Linked DNA regions of Homo sapiens. The protein of the gene in region 1 purifies or fractionates together with the protein of each later gene. This does not show direct contact. Each region holds a gene or a part of one and is shown in the gene's direction. Other genes may lie near its edges.

What was found.
Region 2: the proteins of ARRDC2 (region 1) and FARP2 purify together in Homo sapiens (affinity purification with mass spectrometry; one large-scale study listed by BioGRID and IntAct). This does not show direct contact.
Region 3: the proteins of ARRDC2 (region 1) and PPP6R3 purify together in Homo sapiens (affinity purification with mass spectrometry; one large-scale study listed by BioGRID and IntAct). This does not show direct contact.
Region 4: the proteins of ARRDC2 (region 1) and EPB41L3 purify together in Homo sapiens (affinity purification with mass spectrometry; one large-scale study listed by BioGRID and IntAct). This does not show direct contact.

What each region holds. Positions count from the first base shown.
Region 1 is NC_000019.10:18,006,402-18,011,926, forward strand, and holds the start of ARRDC2 (arrestin domain-containing protein 2), read left to right. Parts: upstream 1-1,768; 5' UTR 1,769-1,909; coding exon 1,910-2,183; intron 2,184-2,309; coding exon 2,310-2,376; intron 2,377-2,569; coding exon 2,570-2,717; intron 2,718-3,190; coding exon 3,191-3,293; intron 3,294-3,381; coding exon 3,382-3,638; intron 3,639-3,794; coding exon 3,795-3,957; intron 3,958-4,170; coding exon 4,171-4,328; intron 4,329-5,525.
Region 2 is NC_000002.12:241,362,195-241,366,981, forward strand, and holds part of FARP2 (FERM, ARHGEF and pleckstrin domain-containing protein 2), read left to right. Parts: intron 1-4,787. UniProt on the Homo sapiens protein: Functions as a guanine nucleotide exchange factor that activates RAC1. May have relatively low activity. Plays a role in the response to class 3 semaphorins and remodeling of the actin cytoskeleton.
Region 3 is NC_000011.10:68,599,662-68,604,448, forward strand, and holds part of PPP6R3 (serine/threonine-protein phosphatase 6 regulatory subunit 3), read left to right. Parts: intron 1-679; coding exon 680-833; intron 834-2,201; coding exon 2,202-2,308; intron 2,309-3,680; coding exon 3,681-3,831; intron 3,832-4,787.
Region 4 is NC_000018.10:5,421,301-5,426,087, reverse strand, and holds part of EPB41L3 (band 4.1-like protein 3), read left to right. Parts: intron 1-1,728; coding exon 1,729-1,826; intron 1,827-2,534; coding exon 2,535-2,710; intron 2,711-4,787. UniProt on the Homo sapiens protein: Tumor suppressor that inhibits cell proliferation and promotes apoptosis. Modulates the activity of protein arginine N-methyltransferases, including PRMT3 and PRMT5.

The sequences.
Region 1 (5,525 bases):
ATCACTCGAGGTTAGGAGCTGGAGACCAGCCGGGCCAACACAGCGAAACCCCTTCTCCACCAAAAAAACCAGTCAGGCGTGGCGGCGCGCGCCTGCAATCGCAGGCACTCGGCAGGCTGAGACAGGAGAATCAGGCAGGGAGGTTGCAGTGAGCCGAGATGGCAGCAGCACAGTCCAGCTTCTGCTCGGCATGAGAGGGAGACCGTGGAAAGAGAGGGAGAGGGAGACCAAGGGGAGAGGGAGAGGGAGAGGGAGCTTAAAAATTGTTAAATTGTTATACATTTAAGGAAAAAACAGTGACACTGGAGGGGCGAGGCCAGTGGAGGTGCTGTGTGACCTCGGGCAGAGCCCCACCCATCTCTGGGCCTTTGGGGTCCGTCTGCGAAATGAATTGAGGGAGGCGCTGGCTCAGTAGTCCCTTCAGGGTTACCTAATCCCGCTTCTCCTCCCGGACTTAACGGCCTACTGTCTCCCCTCTAGTATCCATTGAAACCTGGCCTAAGGTCCCAGACCTTCCTTTCAACTCCAAAGACCCATCCTCCCAGGCAGCCTTCCAGGCTGATCACTGTGCCTCCAACTCCGTCGTTCCTGTTCCGATCCCCATCACGGGCTGAGGGTGACCGTGTTTGTTTATGACCGCCCCCTCCACCCACACACCTCACTGAGGTGGTGGAAGTCTCCTGAGCCAGGCTCAGAGGCGGACAGTCACGGCAGGGGATGGGTTCAGCGGCAGCGCATTACGCTGCCACGAGAGGGCGCCAGCGTCCCGCAGACGACGCAGAGGCAACTCCCGCTGGAGAAACTCCATGCGACTTTTCTTTGGGGAAACTGAAGCCCAGAGAGAGGTCACGCCGTCCCGTGGCCACACCGCAGCTGTGGACCTGGGGGTGCCCGAGCGTCCCCTGCATTCAGCTCTGTGGCGGGACGGGGGCTGAGGATGACTGGAGCAGGCACAAGGGCTGCGGGGAAGGTAGGGTTTGCCAGAGGCTGAAAATTGGGAAGGGAACATCATTTCGTAGGTACCGCTCCTGGGCGAATGCGCCGAGGCGCGACCGAGTGACGGTATGTCAAGAGCAGGTTGATGACCCGGGAGCGAGGCTCTTGGAGGAGTCCAGCTGGGGCTGCACGATGATCCATGCACAACCTTCTGAGGTCAGGACTGATTTTTACTTTCTCCCGGCTCTACAGAGGTGGAAACTGAGGCTCCAAGAGGTTGTCATTTGCCCAGAGCCACCAGCTAAGCGGGACTTGAATCAGGAAAGGGGTGCAGCAGGCACCAGTGTGGAGGGCGGTCCCACCCACCTCCTCCACTTCTCCCTTTGCATAGCGGGGGAAACAGGCCTGGAACAGTCATAGGCTCTCTGGCCCTCAACTGGGGCGAGAGTCCCCCGCCCCAAATCGGGCTGGACATGCCTCGAGTCACGTCAACGAGGGGCGGCTGGTGAGTGATTAAGCCGAGAGGCTGAAGGCTCTGCTAGGTGACCTCAGGCCTGGGCCCTGCCTCTGCACCTCTTTTTTTCCTCTTTACCCCCGGGGTCCGCGAGAGACCAGCTCTGGCAGCCTAAGGGCTTCAGTTTCTCCCCGGGGTCCGCGAGGGAAGGGGGCAGCCGGCGGTGAGCAGGGGCGTTTGTTATTTTGCTCCACGCCTGGGCAGAGCCACGCCCCTTGTCGCGCTATTGGTGGAGTCCCTTCCCGGGGCGGGGAAGAGACGGTGACCCCACCCCCCCCCGCCCTGCCGTATAAAAGCGGCGCCGACGCACGGCGCGGGGATTTTCTGCTCCGGTTGGTGAGCGCGCCTGCGCGTTGACGGCGATTTTGCGTTCTGAGGCTGCAGCGTCGGCATCTTGAGCTGCCGGTTCGCGAGTTCGAGGCCAGGTTCCGCCTGTCGTGGGTTCGCACCCCGGACGCGATGCTATTCGACAAGGTGAAAGCGTTCTCGGTGCAGTTGGACGGCGCGACCGCGGGCGTCGAGCCCGTGTTTAGCGGCGGCCAGGCCGTGGCGGGCCGGGTGCTGCTGGAGCTGTCAAGCGCCGCGCGTGTGGGTGCCCTGAGGCTGCGCGCGCGGGGCCGCGCCCACGTGCACTGGACCGAGTCGCGCAGCGCGGGCTCGAGCACGGCTTACACGCAGAGCTACAGTGAACGCGTGGAGGTCGTGAGCCACCGCGCCACGCTCCTGGCGCCAGGTACGGATGGAGGACCCCTGCTCCAACACCAGTTGTGTGCCTCCCACCACCTGGACGGCGGTACCTCCGTCAGCCCTGGGACCCCAGCGCAACCGCTCAGTCGCCTCCTTTTTCTCCTACCTGCAGATACCGGGGAGACCACGACGCTGCCTCCTGGGCGCCATGAGTTCCTGTTCAGCTTCCAGCTGCCCCCGTAAGTCCTCTGGGGTGCAGGGTTGCCCTAAGCCTGCAGCCCCTTCCAGATTGGTACCTCCAATACTGGATATCTGGGCACCTCTGAGCCCCAAGACTCTCCCCCTGGGAGGCCCCCGGAGTGTCTGTGTCTCCTTCTCCCTGCCTGCTTGTCTCTGTATCTTGTCCCCTGAAGTCCCGTCCCTCCACCCTAGGACCCTGGTGACATCCTTCGAGGGCAAACACGGTAGTGTCCGCTACTGTATCAAGGCCACCCTGCACCGGCCCTGGGTCCCAGCACGCCGGGCAAGGAAGGTGTTCACTGTCATCGAGCCTGTGGACATCAACACGCCAGCCCTGCTGGTGAGTGGCCACCCTTGGGGAGGTAGGTTGGGAGTATTGTAGGAAGGGGCCTGCCTGGCTGCTGGGCGACACCAACCAATAAGATGGAGGTCATAGGTGGGCCCTGGCAGGGAGGGAGGCAGGTGTGGGAATGCGTGTGGAATCCACTGGGATCTGCACCCATTTGCCGTGTGACTCTGGGCAAGTGTCTTGAAGCCCTCTCTGAGCCTCAGATGCCTCTTCTGTGAAATAGACCAGAGCTAGGGCTTACCAAGTGTGAATTACACACCAAACACTTGGCTTATACATTTCATTTCTGGCTTTATAAGATGGGTTGTGTTCCTGGCTCTATTTAACGGATAGTTCCTGGATTGTTAAAAAGAAACCAAGCCCTGCCCAAAGTCCTCCCTCAGCTGGGGGTGGTTTGGAAGCTCCACAGCGACTGTGGTTTGCACAAAGTGACTCATCCATGTCACTTTCCTCTACACCGACAGGCACCTCAAGCGGGGGCTCGGGAAAAGGTTGCCCGATCCTGGTACTGTAACCGTGGCCTAGTCTCCCTTTCGGCCAAGATCGACCGCAAGGGCTACACCCCAGGTAGCAGGCGGACCGGACTGGGTTGGGACGGGGGCTGGTGTTGGGGTTGCAGGAGGGGAAACTGAGGCCCCACTGCTCCTTGCTGCAGGAGAGGTCATCCCTGTCTTTGCCGAGATCGACAACGGCTCCACACGTCCTGTGCTGCCTCGGGCAGCCGTGGTGCAGACACAGACGTTCATGGCCCGAGGCGCCCGAAAGCAGAAACGGGCAGTGGTGGCCAGCCTCGCGGGCGAGCCGGTGGGCCCCGGGCAGCGGGCGCTGTGGCAGGGCCGGGCACTGCGGATCCCCCCAGTGGGTCCTTCCATCCTGCACTGCCGCGTTCTACACGTGGACTACGCACTCAAGGTAGGGCATCCTGCTGGCCCTGGGGGACAGTGCCTACATTCACCCTGTATTCCCTCAGACTGGGGGAAGCTGAGGCCTCAGTCTCCCCAGGCATAGGAGGGAGGTGGGGGTTGGGGAGGCTGCCTGGGCACCCTCCCTTATGGTTCCTTCCTCCAGGTCTGTGTGGATATCCCAGGAACGTCCAAGCTGCTGCTGGAGCTGCCACTGGTGATCGGCACCATTCCCTTGCACCCTTTTGGCAGCCGTTCCTCCAGCGTGGGCAGCCACGCCAGCTTCCTGCTGGACTGGAGGCTGGGGGCCTTGCCGGAGCGGCCTGAGGGTAAGCTCCCACCCTGCTTGCATGCAGAGGGTGGGTGGATACACGGAGAGGTGGATGCCGGGTCAACTCTCTCACCACGAGTCCCCCGGAATCCCAACCAAAGGACATACAGCCTGGCAGCCCCAGAGCTGGCACAAGCCAGCTCCTGGCCCCTGGTCCCTTGGAGCAGGGCTCTCTCCTGCCAACCTCACCCACCCTGTCTCTCGCTTCCAGCTCCTCCTGAGTACTCGGAGGTGGTAGCCGACACTGAGGAGGCAGCCTTGGGGCAGAGCCCCTTCCCGCTTCCGCAGGACCCCGACATGAGCCTTGAAGGCCCGTTCTTCGCCTACATCCAAGAGTTCCGCTACCGCCCGCCACCCCTGTACTCTGAGGTGAGCTCAGGGGTCTGAGAACCACCCATGCCTCTCTGGGCCCTGGGAGCCTTGATGGGGTGGCAGACATAGTAGATGGGTTTTTTTTGTTTTTTTGTTTTTTTAGACAGGGTCTTGCTCTGTCACCCAGGCTGGAGTGCAGTGGCATAATCATAGCTCACTGCAGCCTCGACCTCCCGGGCTCAAGCAATCCTTTCGCCTCAGCCTCTTGAGTAGCTGGGACTACAGGCACACGCCACCACATCCTGCTAATTTTTGTGTTTTGTTTTGTTTTGCTTTGCTTTTTGAGATGGAGTTTCAGTCTTGTCACCCAGGCTGGAGTGCAATGGTGCGATCTCAGCTCACTTCAACTTCCGCATCCCTGGTAGAGCGATTCTCCTGCCTCAGCCTTCCGAGTAGCTGGGATTACAGGTGTTAGCCACCACACGTGGCTAATTTTTGTATTTTTAGTAGAGACGGGGTTTCACCATGTTGGTCAGGCTGGTCTTGAACTCCTGACCTCAGGTGATGGCCTGCCTCGGCATCCCAAAGTGCTGGGATTATATGCGTGAGCTACCACGCCCGGCCAATTTTTGTATTTTTTGTAGAAATGTGGTCTCACTGTGTTGCCCAGGCTGGTCTTGAACTCCTGGGCTCAAATGATCCTCCCATCTTGGCCTCCCCAAAGTGCTGGGATTACAGGCGTCAGCCACTGTGCCCGGCTGGCAGAGGATTTTAATTGTTGACAGAATTTCGCTACATACAGTCGGCCCTCTGCGTTAGCTGGTTTGGAATCTGCAGATTCAACCAAACATGGGTCAGAGACATTTGAAAAATAAATACATACATGGATAATACAGATTAAAAATATGATAGGCTGGGTGCGGTGGCTCATGCCTGTAATCCCAGCACTTTGAGAGGCCAAGATGGGAGGACTGCTTGAGGCCAGAAGTATAAGACCAACCTGGGTAACATAGCAAGACCCCCATCTCTACTGCAAATAATACAAAATTACCCAGGCTTGGTGGAGCCCATCTATGATTGGGAGGCTGAGGCAGGAGGATCGCTTGAGCCCAGGAGTTTGAGGCTGCAGTGAGCAATGATTGTGCTACTACATACTCCAGTCTGGGAGACAAAACAAGACCTCATCTCAATACTACTACTAATAGTAATAATGCAGTATAACAGTGATTAAATAGCATTTATATTTTGTGTGTG
Region 2 (4,787 bases), on another chromosome or scaffold:
TCCCCCTTTATGATTAAAATCTCAGTTGCTTTGTTAGTATAGTAGTTAATAAGATGAATGTTGGAAAACAAGTATCAGTATCTGAACAAGAAATGGAACCCAGAGAGTGTTTAAAAATATTAATTTTGGCCAGGCGTGGTGGCTCATGCCTGTAATCCCAGCACTCTGGGAGGCTGAGGTGGGCAGATCATGAGGTCAGGAGATCAAGGTCATCCTGGCTAACATGGTGAAACCCCATCTCACTAAAAACACAAAAAATTAGCCGGGCATGGTGGCGGGCGCCTGTGATCCCAACTACTCGGGAGGCTGAGGCAGGAGAATGGCGTGAACCCAGGAGGCGGAGCTTGCAGTGAGGCGAGATTGCGCCACTGCTCTCCAGCCTGGGTGACAGAGCAAGACTCCATCTCAAAAATATATATATATATTAATTTTTAATTGAACTATTTTTGAAAGAAGAGCAAATACAACTCTAAGGGGAAAGACAGTTATTCCAGCTTTCTCTTGGAAGGTAAGTAATGGCATACTGTAGGTAGCCCCTATCAGTTAAGACTTTTAAAGCTGGTAGTACTTCTGCAGGATTCTGCAGAGAAACCATCTGACTTCAAAGATAATGTATACTCGTCACTGTAGGTGATTTGACAAATACAGAAAATTAGGAAGAAGGAAATAAAAATCAATCCTCTTACCCCTCCCAATGATAACCACTATAAATGTATTTTAAAATGCATGGATGTGGAGCTGTGGTTCTGGGAGGTGGAGGGAGCATACTCCATCTTGCCTCTCCCACTGTCTGTGGCTGTAAGACCTGGACATGTGCATGGAGCAGCTGTTGAGGACTCCGACAAGTAAACGGTAACAGGCGGATGGGAGAGAAGGCCAGAATTTGAAGCACCACTTTGCACCAGTAGTGAGTTTCTTGTCTTCCCTTCAGCATCCCCTGCCCTGGACTCTGGCTGTCCAAAACCTGAAGGCAGGTACCCAGTATGAACAGGGAGAGCTACAGAGTAGTTTTGTAGTTGGGCCCCAAGACAGAAAGTGGGAGAAAGCCATTATTTTTTTCCCTCTTGCTTCCTCTCCTCCACTCAGCCCTGCAGTGGCAGGAGTGTGTGAACACCTAAAACTCTTAGGGAATGGGGAAAACCCCAGTTGCCTTTTTATTCTCTTCCCTCCTGCAGCTCAGTCCCAGGCAAGATGCAGGCACAAGAATAGCATGGCTAAACGGAGTAATTAAAGCCGTAGGTTTCTGGTTGGAGTCTGAAAAGGGGAGCCCAGGTCACTGGAAGGGATACTAGGGAGATTCCAGAGAGGGAATTGCTCAGGAAAGTGACCCCATGAAGTTGTTAGTTAACTTATAGGCTCAACACTGAGCTATGCACGCGTGATGTGAGCCAGAACAGGTTGCCAAAGACGGAACTCGGCTATGGGATAGACCATCGCCTGGAAGGCAGGCTGGCCACCAAGCAAGTAGGGACCGCAGGACATTGCTGAGGAGCACTGCAAAGGCTTTGAAAGTGAAAGTGACACTGATACCATGTTCTACAGAAGGCTGGTCAGGACCTGGGGACTGAATCCAGCCAGGCCAGTGCCTGCTCAACAAAATACCAGCATTCCCCATAGGATTTAAACAAGATCAAGAGTCTCTAAGAGTGTGATGTTAAAAATGTCCAGGATACAATGCAAAATTTACTCAGCATGTGAAGAACCAGGAAAATAACTCGTGAAAAAAGACACAGGCTAAAGCTGAGGTGGTGCCTATGTTGGAATTATCTGATAGACTGTGGTCTGCAGATTTGTGGCCTCCATGAGCTTGACCTCCTAGTGTTTATCCTGGGAGTATGTGACTGATTTGGCAAAAGCACATTGCAGATGTAATGAAGGGTACGAATCAACTAGCCTGGATTCGTTGTCTAGATTATCCAGGTGGGCCTTAGGTAATTATATGAGCCTTTAAAAGCAGGGATCTTCCTCCAGCTGGTAGCAGATGGGGAAGGCAGAGAGACTGGAAGTATAAGAAGTTTTCAACGTAACATTTCTGGCATGGAAGATGGAAGGGGCCATGAGCCAAGGAATGAGAATGACAAACAGCTGACAGCCAGCAAGAACTAAGGACCTCAGTCCTCTACCCACACAGACTTGAATGAGCCTGTAAGTGTATTCTCCCCCAAGGAAATCCACATAAGACCCCAGGTCAGCTGACACCTTGACTTAGACCTTTTGAGACCCTAAGCAGAGAATTCTGGTGAGTTACATTACACTCAAACTTCTAACCCGTAGACACTGTGAGATAATAAAAGGCTGTTATTTTAAGCTGCTAAGTTTGTGGAAATTTGTTAAGGCTACAGTTAAAAAATAAATAAAACTTTATAAAGCCCCTATTATTAAAATAGTCCAAGAAGTAAAGCTACTCTTGAAACAGATGGAAATATAGAAAGTCTTGGCAAGAAAACAGAAGATATAAAGAAGTGGGAATTTTAGTGAAAAATACAATAACTGAAATAAAATGGATGAAAGAGTGAATTCATAATGCATGGATTTACAGTTCTTTAAATCAGTTTTTTGTTTGTTTTTAATCTTTTTAATACTTTTCATTTTTTCTTGACAACTATTCCTTCACAGTCATTTTTAATATATCTTTTCTGCTCTACATCCTGAGAGAAACTTCTCTAGTAATGAACTGTAGAAATAATCCCTGTAAATATAGTCTTATGTTTTTTAGTCTTGAAGAATTTGCACTGTAATCTGTTGGACTGGGAGCCATGCCGGATATTAGTCTCACCCCTGCACAAATCAGGTCTGTGGCCTTGAGCAAGCAGCTTCGTTTTCAAGGCTGTAGTTTCTTATGGAAAGTAGAGACTGGGCCAGGATTTCATAAAGTAGGAGCTTCTCTCTCCCTCTCTCTCAGCTTGAACTCTTGCATGGGTTCCTTGAATCCTTATGTACATCAAAAATTATTGCTAGATTTGTTTTTTGTTTTGACTTGTGGAAAATTCCAAACATTCACAAAAGTAGAGAAAATAATAAATCAAAGCCCATGTATACAGCATCAATAATCAACACATGGACAATCTTTTTTTCCTGTACCCACTTCCACTGATCCCCAACTCGTTGGATTATTTTTAAGTAAATGCTAGATATTATTTCATTTTATCCATAAATGCTTTAGTATCCATCTCTAAGAGAGGGACTTTTTTCCCCTTCATGTACCCACAATACCACTAAAACACTAGAAAATAATATTAACCTCTTAATATCATCTGATGCTTAGTTAGCATTCGTATTTCTCTGATCTGTAAATATTTGATTCAGGATTCAAATGAGGTCCTATATATAGCATTTGATAACATCATACCTTATAGATAACATGTCTTAGTAGTTTTTATTTACACACATACACACACCGTTTCCTTTTTTTGTTGCCATTTACCAAAGAGACAAGGTCATTTCTCCTGTAGGATTTCTTTGTGGTTCTTTTATTCCTTAGGATATATTTTCCTGGTGACGTAGAATGAAGTTACTGGGCTTTGAAGTCACTTGAAGTAATTTTCTTTAGTTTAGCTGATGTCTTGATTTACAGTTAAGACCATTTGTTTCATTTCGTTTGGGTTTTTAGGACTTGCTTTTCTAAAATATTGATTTAATTTTGCTTTCTAATTATGTGAAACCATTTATGAGGTTCCCGTATCAAAACTACTAAACACCGTGTACAGTTTCCAACATTGTTTACCCCTTTCACTTCCTCCCTCATAGGTAACCATTTTCATTAGTTTTTGGTTTATGCTCTTTTTTTTTTTTTAATATAAACAAATACATACCACTTTGGGAGGTTAAAGCAGTGGCATCACTTGAGCCTGAGAGTTCGAGACCAGCCTGGGTAACCTAGTGAGACCTCATCACTACTAAAAAAAAAAAAATATATATATATATATACGTATATATATATATATACACACACACATATATATTTTCTTCCTCTTTTAACAGAGGTTAGCATGCCATGCACCTGGTTTTGCACCTTTTATTCACTTTCACACCAAAGCAGCATATACAGATCTTGCTTTTTTCTGTAAAGATTTTGATGTTAAATTGGATGGCTTCATACCATCCCCCACAGAAGTGTTGAGAATCAGTTATCCAGATTCACTTCAGCTCCTAAAACTTCTGCTTTTCAGTTTGTAGAATTTTGTTTAACATAAAATCAGGATACCAGGTTGTAGAGGATCTAAAATACACTCTAAAGGAAATAATACATCCGTTTAGTGTTCAGGCAATTAAAAAAAATAACCTGGGGAGTAAAAGTAAGATTTTCAAATATTAGTTATGTAGAAAGAAATCTCTTTGGAACAATTAGTCTGTGTACTATGTTGCTGAATTTGTCTGAAAGTGATCTTCCTTTTCTTGCACACATTTAGCCACTGTTGCATTATGCTAAGGTAGGAAGATTGTGATAACATGATTTTATGGGGTATATTTAATTTTTGGCTACCAAACACTATAAATTAGTAGAAATCAAGAACACATTTTCTTTCCATTTGTTCTCACATTGAGCTGCCTTATCACAGAATCATGGATTCTTAGACCTGAAAAATATCTGATTAACCCTTCCCTTCCTCTGTCATTTTCCAGTTGAAAAAGCTGGGGCTGGGAGTGGTGCCGTGACTCAGTTTGTTAATGGCAGAGTTGAAATTGAAACCTGAGTGTGCTGGCCCTGAATTTCCACCATCCCCAGCTGCTGCTGCCTCCTTCCTTGTTCCCCATTAGCACCTGCCTTTTTATTTGGTCTTTTTTAA
Region 3 (4,787 bases), on another chromosome or scaffold:
AGAAACATTGCCAAGATAGTAAGTCTCCATATATCCTTCACTTAGCTTCCCCAAGTATGAATACAGCCATGGTACATTTGTCAAAACTAAGAAATTAACATTAATCCCTCTTTGTGCATGTAGCTTTGAATCTCTGTGTAGTATTTCTTTTGGAACAGTTGTTAGAAATGGGAGGTTTGAGGCCAGGCGCGGTGGCTCACGCCTGTAATCCCAGCACTTTGGGAGGCCAAGGCGGGCGGTTCACGAGGTCGGGATATTGAGACCATCCTGGCTAACACAGTGAAACCTGTCTCTACTAAAAATACAAAAAATTAGCCAGGCGTGATGGCGGGTGCCAGTAATCCCAGCTACTCAGGAGGCTGAGGCAGGAGAATGGCGTGAACCCGGGAGGCGGAGCTTGCAGTGAGCGGAGATCGTGCCACTGCACTCCAGCCTGGGCGACAGAGCGAGACTCCATCTCAAAAAAATAATAATAAAAAGAAATGGGAGGTTTGAGAATGTGGGATCATTGTTAGAGTGCCCTCCAGGTGGCTGTGCCCTGTCCGCTCCTGCCCTCATTGGTGAGAGTGTCTTTCTCCCACAGCTCCAGTCTCTTTTGCTAATGTGTTTTTGATAAATACCTTGTGGTACATGAAACGACTGAAGTGTTTTCCAAATAGAATTTCTCCCCTCTTTTTAGCACCCAACTGGTCAGCTAACTTTGATGTCCCAATGGAAACAACCCACGGTGCTCCATTGGATTCTGTGGGATCTGATGTCTGGAGCACAGAGGAGCCGATGCCAACTAAAGAGACGGGCTGGGCTTCTTTTTCAGAGTTCACGTCTTCCCTGAGGTGAGCGAACATGTGCTGTCTCTACACCCTTCCACGGGGGACCTGGGAATGGTCAGGTGTTTGCTGTTAACGTGTGTTCTTCACCTTGACTGACTTCCAAGTTGAATATACTGCCCTGAAAAAGATTAAACATCAGCATACTAACACAGCTCTGTGTTGTAAGAAGAACAATCACCATCTTCCTTTCCTTTCCTCCTGGATTAATTGGAAATGGGAGTAGTTCTTGAACAAAGTAGCTTGTGAGGATGCGGTCCCAGGGAGTTAGCAGGACGCAGCAGAAGATGCATCTCCGTGAGCTTTTCTGGCTTCATAGAGCTGTCAGGACAGAATTGAGGAGAAGAGGAATGAGGTGAAGCCAAGAAATCCTGACAGGCACAGCACCTCTGTGTGGGGTGTGGCAGGCAAACAAAATGGATCTTGAATTCAGTAGATAATATGAACTTACAGTTCACTTGCAGCTAGTCCAGTGCTGTCAATTAAGGGCTCCCAATCATTGGTAACTCGGAAGATAGGAAGACAAGCTGTTTTGGGCTGACAGTTAGTGTCTTAGACAAACCAAAGAATAGGCTGAAACCCATGTTGCTTTGTAGTAACCATAGTAATAGCATTAAGTTACTACTCAGAGGTACAAGTGAGATTTGTGAAAAATGTCTCCAAAATAATGAGTTATTTCGTCTACCCCGCTTTTCAGTACAGGACATACATTTCCGCCTACTCCTTTTTTTGGTCTGTTTATAACCCGAGGATAAGAGCCTTTGGTTACTTGAGGGTGTGATTGAAGCAGCTTGCTTCTCTTTACCCTCTGTGTGCACGTCTCTGAGTTTGTGGGAATGAGGGATAAAAGAGGAAGTGTAATGATCTCCCTCACCCCTACCCCTTACTGCTCAGGCATTTGGTGTTTTTTTACTATGTTTCCACAGTTCCAACAACAAATATCATTAAGAGGGCCAGTCTCTCCCAGGCAGTGTGGCTGAAAATAAGTAAAGGTTTTTGTAAAACCAGTCAACCTGATAAATACCGTTGCCATTGCACAATGTACGTCTTTGCTGTTCAAGCTCTGGGAGCCTCCTAGTGACTATGGTGGGATGAGAAGTTGGGACATGATGAGCCTGTCTAGAATGCTTTACAAAGTCCCTGTCTTACTGCCTTGCTGGCTTAACAGAACATTTGCCTGCCCGCACTCATGTCCTTCTTCAAACAGCTACTGGCACTTAGATCCATGTGTCACTGGAGTTTGTAACCCAGTGACTCTTACACAGATGCTAATGTCTCCTAACAAAAACTTACTTGTAAAGGCTTATTGTGAATCTTGGGGTAACTGAGGACCATTCCCTGCTGCTAATATCTGAATTTTCTCTTTTTTGAAAGCACAAAAGATTCTTTAAGGAGTAATTCTCCAGTGGAAATGGAAACCAGCACTGAACCCATGGACCCTCTGACTCCCAGTGCGGCTGCCCTGGCAGTGCAGCCAGAAGGTGCGTGCAGAGAGGCCTGGGTACACGCCAGGGTCACGTGGCTGCTTTGTCAAACCAGACCTGATTCTCAGGCTCAGGGGCTAGTGGAGCCCGGGAGTGAGATGGTGGGTCTGATGTCCACAGGGCAGCTGATGAAAGAAATTGTGCCTGTCCTTCTAGAACCACAGCATGCTGACTCTGGAAAGAGTAAGGGCTCTAAGTTACCAGGCATGCAGTGTGCAGATTAGGAAACTGAGGTCTAGAGGGAAGAAGGCCTAAGCCCATAGTACCCAGGGTGAATAAAACTGGAATTAGACGTGTGCAGCCAAGCCTGTGTGTAGTTGTCCCTTGGAGTTTGCTTTGCTCAAGCATGTAGGTGTATCTGGGTTTGTTTAGAGCTATGGGGCTGGTTATTTTCACTTCGCCATTGTAAGCAGATTGAATAGTCCTGGGAATCTCTAAAGTTCCAGTGGGTTTTCCTATTACTCTACCTAGTCAAATGTGTTCCTTGCACGGCCCTGAACTGTTTTCACCTTGATGGACGGGGCTTTGGGAGGAGGGGGATGCTAGCAAAGGGAGTGTGATGGGAACCAAAAGGATGTGGAGGGCACGAATCATGAGGTGGGCTTAAGGAGTGAGTTCTTAGAAAATGAAATGAGGTTTTGGTAGAGGGTGTGAGAACCCTCCTTCCCAGGGGCAAGGGAAAGGAATAAAACCAATAACTAATGCTGGTTTCATCATCCTCCTGAACATTTGATACAGATTCCCGCATTTGACTCCTCAGTGGTTCTGTAAGTGGGTGCACTGATCCCCTTTCCTGGATGAGGAAACTCAGGTTATAGATGAGGTTCCTTGTCCAAGTAGTCTACAGCTAGGAAGTGGTGATGTCGATGTTTGAATCCAGGAAGCCTCACCTCAGCCAGGCTCATCACCTATGTTGGCTTCCCATTAGAGAACAAAGAAACGATCCACCAGCAACACCACAAGAAAGTAATTTTTAAAACAAAGCAAAGCAAATAGAGCCCAACTGAGGAAAACAAGTGAGTAGAGGGTAGAGTGTGTAACTGCCTGCTCTGCCCCACACTGGAACAGTTAGGAGCACAAGTGTCTGCTGGGAGAAGCTGGGTATGGAGGTGGACGCTGAGCTGGGAGGGATGTAGGCGACTTGCTAGTCTCTAGTAAAGAAAACCCATGAAACCCCTCTTTAGTGGGCATCTTTAAGAAGTCTCTCCCCATCAAGAATGTGGCCCAGACAACAGCAGGCAGAAGCCATCTCACTCTTTTTTTTCTTCAAGCAGTAGATGTCACGTTGGGTAGATGGGTTTGTACAGTGGTGGGGTGCCAGTTCCTTTTCGGGCTTGCTGTGTGTGACCATCAGCTGTGTTCTTTTCAGCGGCAGGCAGTGTGGCCATGGAAGCCAGCTCTGACGGAGAGGAGGATGCAGAAAGTACAGACAAGGTAACTGAGACAGTGATGAATGGCGGCATGAAGGAAACGCTCAGCCTCACTGTAGATGCCAAGACAGAGACTGCGGTCTTCAAAAGGTAACCAGGGGTGAGATCCTGCTGGTAGCTTCAGGTTATTGGGAGGATGGTGGGGCAGAAACCTCAAACATTAAAATTTTTAATTTGATTCAAATGAATGTTCAGATACTAGCTTGATGTCTTTCTGTTGTCTCCATTAAACACAATAAATCTTAATGAAGAGATGGAGAGTTTAGGCCCCTAAGTGCCTTTTCCCCCATAAATGTGTTCAGAAGACTGTATTTTACATCTAGCAGTTTGATAGAACTATGAGAATTGATAAATCTTTAATCACAATAGAAATTGGCTTGTGTAACAGGCTACAGAGCATGGCCCATGAAAACCGGTTTCAGGTCGACTGGTTTTACAAAAACCTTTACTTATTTTCAGTAACATACAGATGATTATCTCAGGACATAATGCAGTCATGAAAATTCAGTAGCAAAATGATAGCTTTAAAAGAACGTGACCCTTAGAAATTCACTTCTAAACTCAAAAAAGGAATTGTAATGGATATTAAAAACCTAAAACTGAGAGAATAATGGGAAAAATGTCTGTCAAAACTTAAGGACTGAAGCTAAGCCTGTGCTTAGAGCTTTAGTCTTAGAGACCATTCCAGCCATTACAAGAAGGAATGCCTCCCTGCTTATTGCGAGGTCACTACAAAACAAGGAGTGAAAGAAGAAAACTGACTGTAGACTGATTTCATACATGAGCAATTATTCTCAAAACTTAAGTTAAAAGCTAGCAAACCAAATGTAGCAATGTATTTTAAAGTCATGACCAAGGATATGTGCTCCAGTGACACAATGTAAACACCAGTGTGTACATGGTAAAAATTATTCAGAGTAATTCCCAGACAAAAGGAGAAAAGCATTTGATTACAAATTAAAGCTGTTCATGATTTTCTTTGCAGCCTAGGAATAGAAAGTAAATAGGTGAAACTGGTAAGTATCTCTAGAAAATCTAGAGTAGAC
Region 4 (4,787 bases), on another chromosome or scaffold:
CAAGGAGCTGAAGAAATGACAGCCAGAGAAATAAAAGAAGAAACAGGCTGATGGATGACCAGGAGATGAGTTTCAGAGGAAAGTGGTTAGCTAGCAGTATCATATGTTACAGAAAGGGCACGCAGGATGTGGACTAACAAAAGTGTGTTGAACTTAACAGTCAGGCCCCATGATGACATTTCAGAGTTCAGAAGGGCAACAGGAGCACCTGCCAGGTGTGTTGAGGTCAGGAGTAGGTAGCAGAGGCAGCAGGTCGTGGCTTCTGCTTCCTAAAGTTTAGCAGTGAGGAGTGAGATGGGGTTGTGGTGCTGGCATAAGCAGGCTCAGAGAGAGCTGGTTTTTCACTCCTCTTCTCTCTGCTTTTACAATCCTATTTACAGCCTGAGAAAAGTGAGTGAGAAGAAATTGGAGACACACAGACTCTGAAGAAGTTGAAAGAAATTGATATAAAACACAGAGAAATAGATATTAATAAACTATTAATACCTATTCAGGTAGTCTAGGAGCCTGCATCATCCTTGCCTACAGAGGTTGGCAGAGACTCTTCCCAGCTTCTTGCAGCAGAGTGCAAGCTGACTCTTCCATATAACCCCTGGCATTGGCGTAATATGTGCATATTAGTTGCAGGATGAATAAATGGATGATGATTTAGTCACAAGCCACACTATGTCTGTCTTGGCTGAGTCCCTTAGACAGTAGTGATTTTTACAAACACCACTGCACATGAACATCCAGAGTGAATAAGAAGTTGGGAAAGGCAATTGCGGTTGAAGCATTTGTGATGTGTTTCCCACTTCCCCTAATCATCCTCAACAAACAAGAAATAGAGGTCAAACATGATTGTATCTCACATGCCATGCATATGACCCCTCACCTCGGTTCTTTGCCATATAAATGATTTTTGCTATTGATTATAGCAGTAGTACCCATTGTGTGCTCTTTGGGGAAGCCTTTACTGTTTAAGATGATTGCCCTCTGGTGGTCTGATGTGTACCTTCTTCAGAATGTGAAAACCTGTGCATCTGCAGTAATAAAGTATATTATGCAGGAAATGAGATGAGTATTTCACCTCGAAAAATCAAATGGCTGATAAGGCATCATCTGAAGTGTACATGCTGAAAAATATGAAAATATGTTCCCCCAATCTCTGATCTTACGTATGATATAGAGAGACGTTAGCATTTAACACGATAATCCATAGCGGAACACACAAATAAAATCAGCAATCTCTGACACCAAGTTATCAACTACCTAAGAAATACACATATTTCCTGCCCAGGTATTAGGAGAAAAGTCTCATTTCTAAGAATGCTGTAGACTATATTTGTAAACATTTTGTTCATTTCTGTACCTTGCAGTTGAAGTCATTGTGTCATTGAGAAACCATGAAAATAAAAGTTTAAAAGTGATATCAGGGCAAATTGATTTCTGGAAGAAATCAAAAAAACCCCTTTTCGTGTTTGGTTTTCAGTTGTATCATAAGATACACACTTATTCAGAAGACATTTTACTGTATGCATAAAGTGGCTATTTATACCTGCAGCATTTTAAAGACACATTTTTGAAATTAACAAATGAATCTGTATAGCATGAATTATGCATATAGCAATTGATCTAGTAAGTAAATTTTTAAAATTCTGGTGGCATCATGATTCTGTAATTTATTTACAGGGCTTCTGTTATTTATAATTTTAAACTTTACTCTTCAATGTATTTTTTTTTATTTAGTTTGAACAATTTGAAAGCACCATTGGGTTTAAGCTGCCAAACCATCGAGCTGCCAAGCGTTTATGGAAAGTATGTGTTGAGCATCATACATTTTTCAGGTAGGAAGAGATTATTTTGTTTTTTCCCTAAGGAATAATTATAATCACTTATACTGAAAAAGATTGTCAATAAAAAATATGGAATTTTATTCTTTCTATCCCTTCAAGTTCATTGTCACCATATTTCTTGATAAGAAATCCTAAGAGAACTAGAAAAAGACTAAATTTGAAGGATTTTCCCTAATTTGTCATGTACTTACATGTCCCAAACCCCCCTTCTTTAGTATCTTTAGTGTGTTTACATTATTTTTAGGGTGTCCACTTCAAATATCCAATCCATTCCTTACTATTTCAATTCCTTACTATTTCAGTGATTTCTCAATACCCTGAATCCCTTTACCTACCTATGCATGGTACGAGACCCATCAAATTAGGCACCCAACACCAAATTGTCACTCTTCTTCTTCACTAATATCAAACTATTTAGTAGCTGTTTGGGCTTATAGAACCATAGACTGTCCACTTTGCGTGGAATGTTAAAAATTCATCTAGTTCAGTACAACCCTCATTTGCATATATCCTCTCTACAATATCCCTAGTTGATATATACTATATGCATTCTTTTATGAAATCAGATTTATTTAACTGCAAGTTGTGCGTTAAATGTTTAGCATGCAAAACACATGACCTCTCAGAGTAAAAAGTTTAAAAAGCACTCTCAATATTGGACTTAATAGTCTTTCTGCTGTTTTTCTTTATTCTCTTTAGACTACTGTTACCAGAAGCACCTCCCAAGAAATTCCTAACCTTGGGTTCCAAGTTTCGTTATAGTGGCAGGACACAAGCGCAAACGAGAAGAGCCAGTGCGTTGATAGATCGCCCAGCACCTTACTTTGAACGCTCATCCAGCAAACGTTATACCATGTCTCGCAGCTTGGATGGAGGTAGGCATCGCTTACTGGCCCTTAATAACCTAGTACCTACCCCAAAAAGAATGTGAAACTGTCATGAGCTTTCAGTAAGTATAGATATTCCTGGATATTGTATGTTGAAAAGCAGTTGTTGCTTATTGACTGAATGGCACATTTTTAAGTCTCCCCCAGCGAAATGAAAGTCCCTTTGTCAGTCTAACATCTGCAGGTTTATGTAAAATTACATAAAAGAATGGCACTTCGGGAATGAAGAAAATAGCTTTCATAAGCTGACACCCTGAATTTGGAGAAAGATGCTCTCATTCTAAATATAGTAGTCACATACTCTGTGATTTGATTCTCTTGCCAACAGGTCTTAAAGGATTGGTAGGTTTAAGACCATTTGTTTTATAAATCTATAAGTTAAATTTATTTCTGTTTCTAAAAAATCTTTATGAATAAAGTGTGACCTTTATCAGTCAGTTGATAATAGCTGGTAGAAAGGATGACATTCAAATAACAGAGCACAGGGTTGTAAGTTAAATTCTCCTAGTTGTGCTAATTACTACCCCAGATGGACTGGGAGAACAGTGCTAGGTAGGGGTTCTGTACTGCCAAGTTAAATTAGTCAAATGGAGAGATGATCATTCAAACTACCTTTTTAGGGGATAACACAACAGTGAATTTTTAGTAGGGTTTTGTTTTATCGAACAGTTTCTTGATTGCTCTCTGAAGTAATATGGAGGTACACTTTCTGCTGCAAGGCGTGCCCGCTGTAACAATACTCTGGAACTGAATCATGTCTAGGTCTCTGTCTTCTCATTTGGAGCACCTGGAGATTTGTTGTTTTTAATAGAAGATCTTATCCTGTGCAAATAAAAAGAATTAGGAGTTTCTGGTATGCAAGTATGGTTTAAATAATAAGGAAAAACATAAATAAAAATAAACAAAAGTTACAAGTGCATGGTACCATCTCCTTTCCTACCTTTTTTGCCACTGTTCCCCTGAGAGTCTCAGCTCTGCCTTCCCCATTTCACTAGCCGGGTGATTGATGGGGAGAGGTGCTCCTTGAATCTCCCAACTAAAAACAACTGTCTTTTTCTAATGGAATACTTTATGAACAGTTTATAGAAGAAATCAAAATGGCATTATTAGTGCTATATTATGTATGTTACTAGCGAGGTGGAAACTGTACTCTTGTGGCATGGGTAAATCCAGATTGAAGTCCAGGCTCTGCTGCCCTCTGTCTCTGCGGTGGTTGACAAATGATTTCAGCTCTCCAGGTCTGTTTTAGTCATCTGTATAATAGGAATAAGGCCGCCTTTGACGGGGCTGTTGTGAAAAGCAAGATATATGTGAAAGCACTCTTGTTACATAGGTAATTATCTCAATAATCATATTGATAATTACTCTTTTTTCACATTTTTTTAAAATTTCAGTAGCTTTTGAGATACAAGCAGTCGGTTTTTGGCCACATGGCTGAATTGTATAGTAGTGAAGTCTGAGATTTTAGTGCACCTGTCACCTGAGTAGTGCACATTGTACCCAATATGTAGTTTTTTATCCGTCACCACCACCCCCGCCACTGTCTGCCTTCTGAGTCTCCAGTGTCCATTATATTACTCTGTGCCTTTGCATACCCATAGCTTAGCTCCCACTTATACATGAGAACGTATGGTATTTGGCTTTTCATTCCTCAGTTACTTCATGTAGAATAATGACCTTCAGCTCCATCCAAGTCACTTCAAAATACATGATTTCATTCATTTTTATGACTGAGTAGTATTCCATGATGTATATATACCACATTTTATATTCATAATTATTCTTACAGGCTTTTGTGAGCTAGCCTAGGAAGTTAATTGCCATTGTGTGTCTTCTAAGAGTTTCCAGAATACCGAACTTAGAGCCAGCCCTTTTGAATAAAATAATTACCAGGACTGTTTCGAGCTGAATTAAGATATTGAAATATCGATGTTAACATTGAAGCTTTTCTTTCTGGTTTATCCTATTGACTCTTGTTTCTCCTTTAGAGTGTCTCTATTACCTATTTCTATATGTTATCAGTATTTGAGGAACTTTGTAGAATCGCACTTTTTTTTTCCTGAAT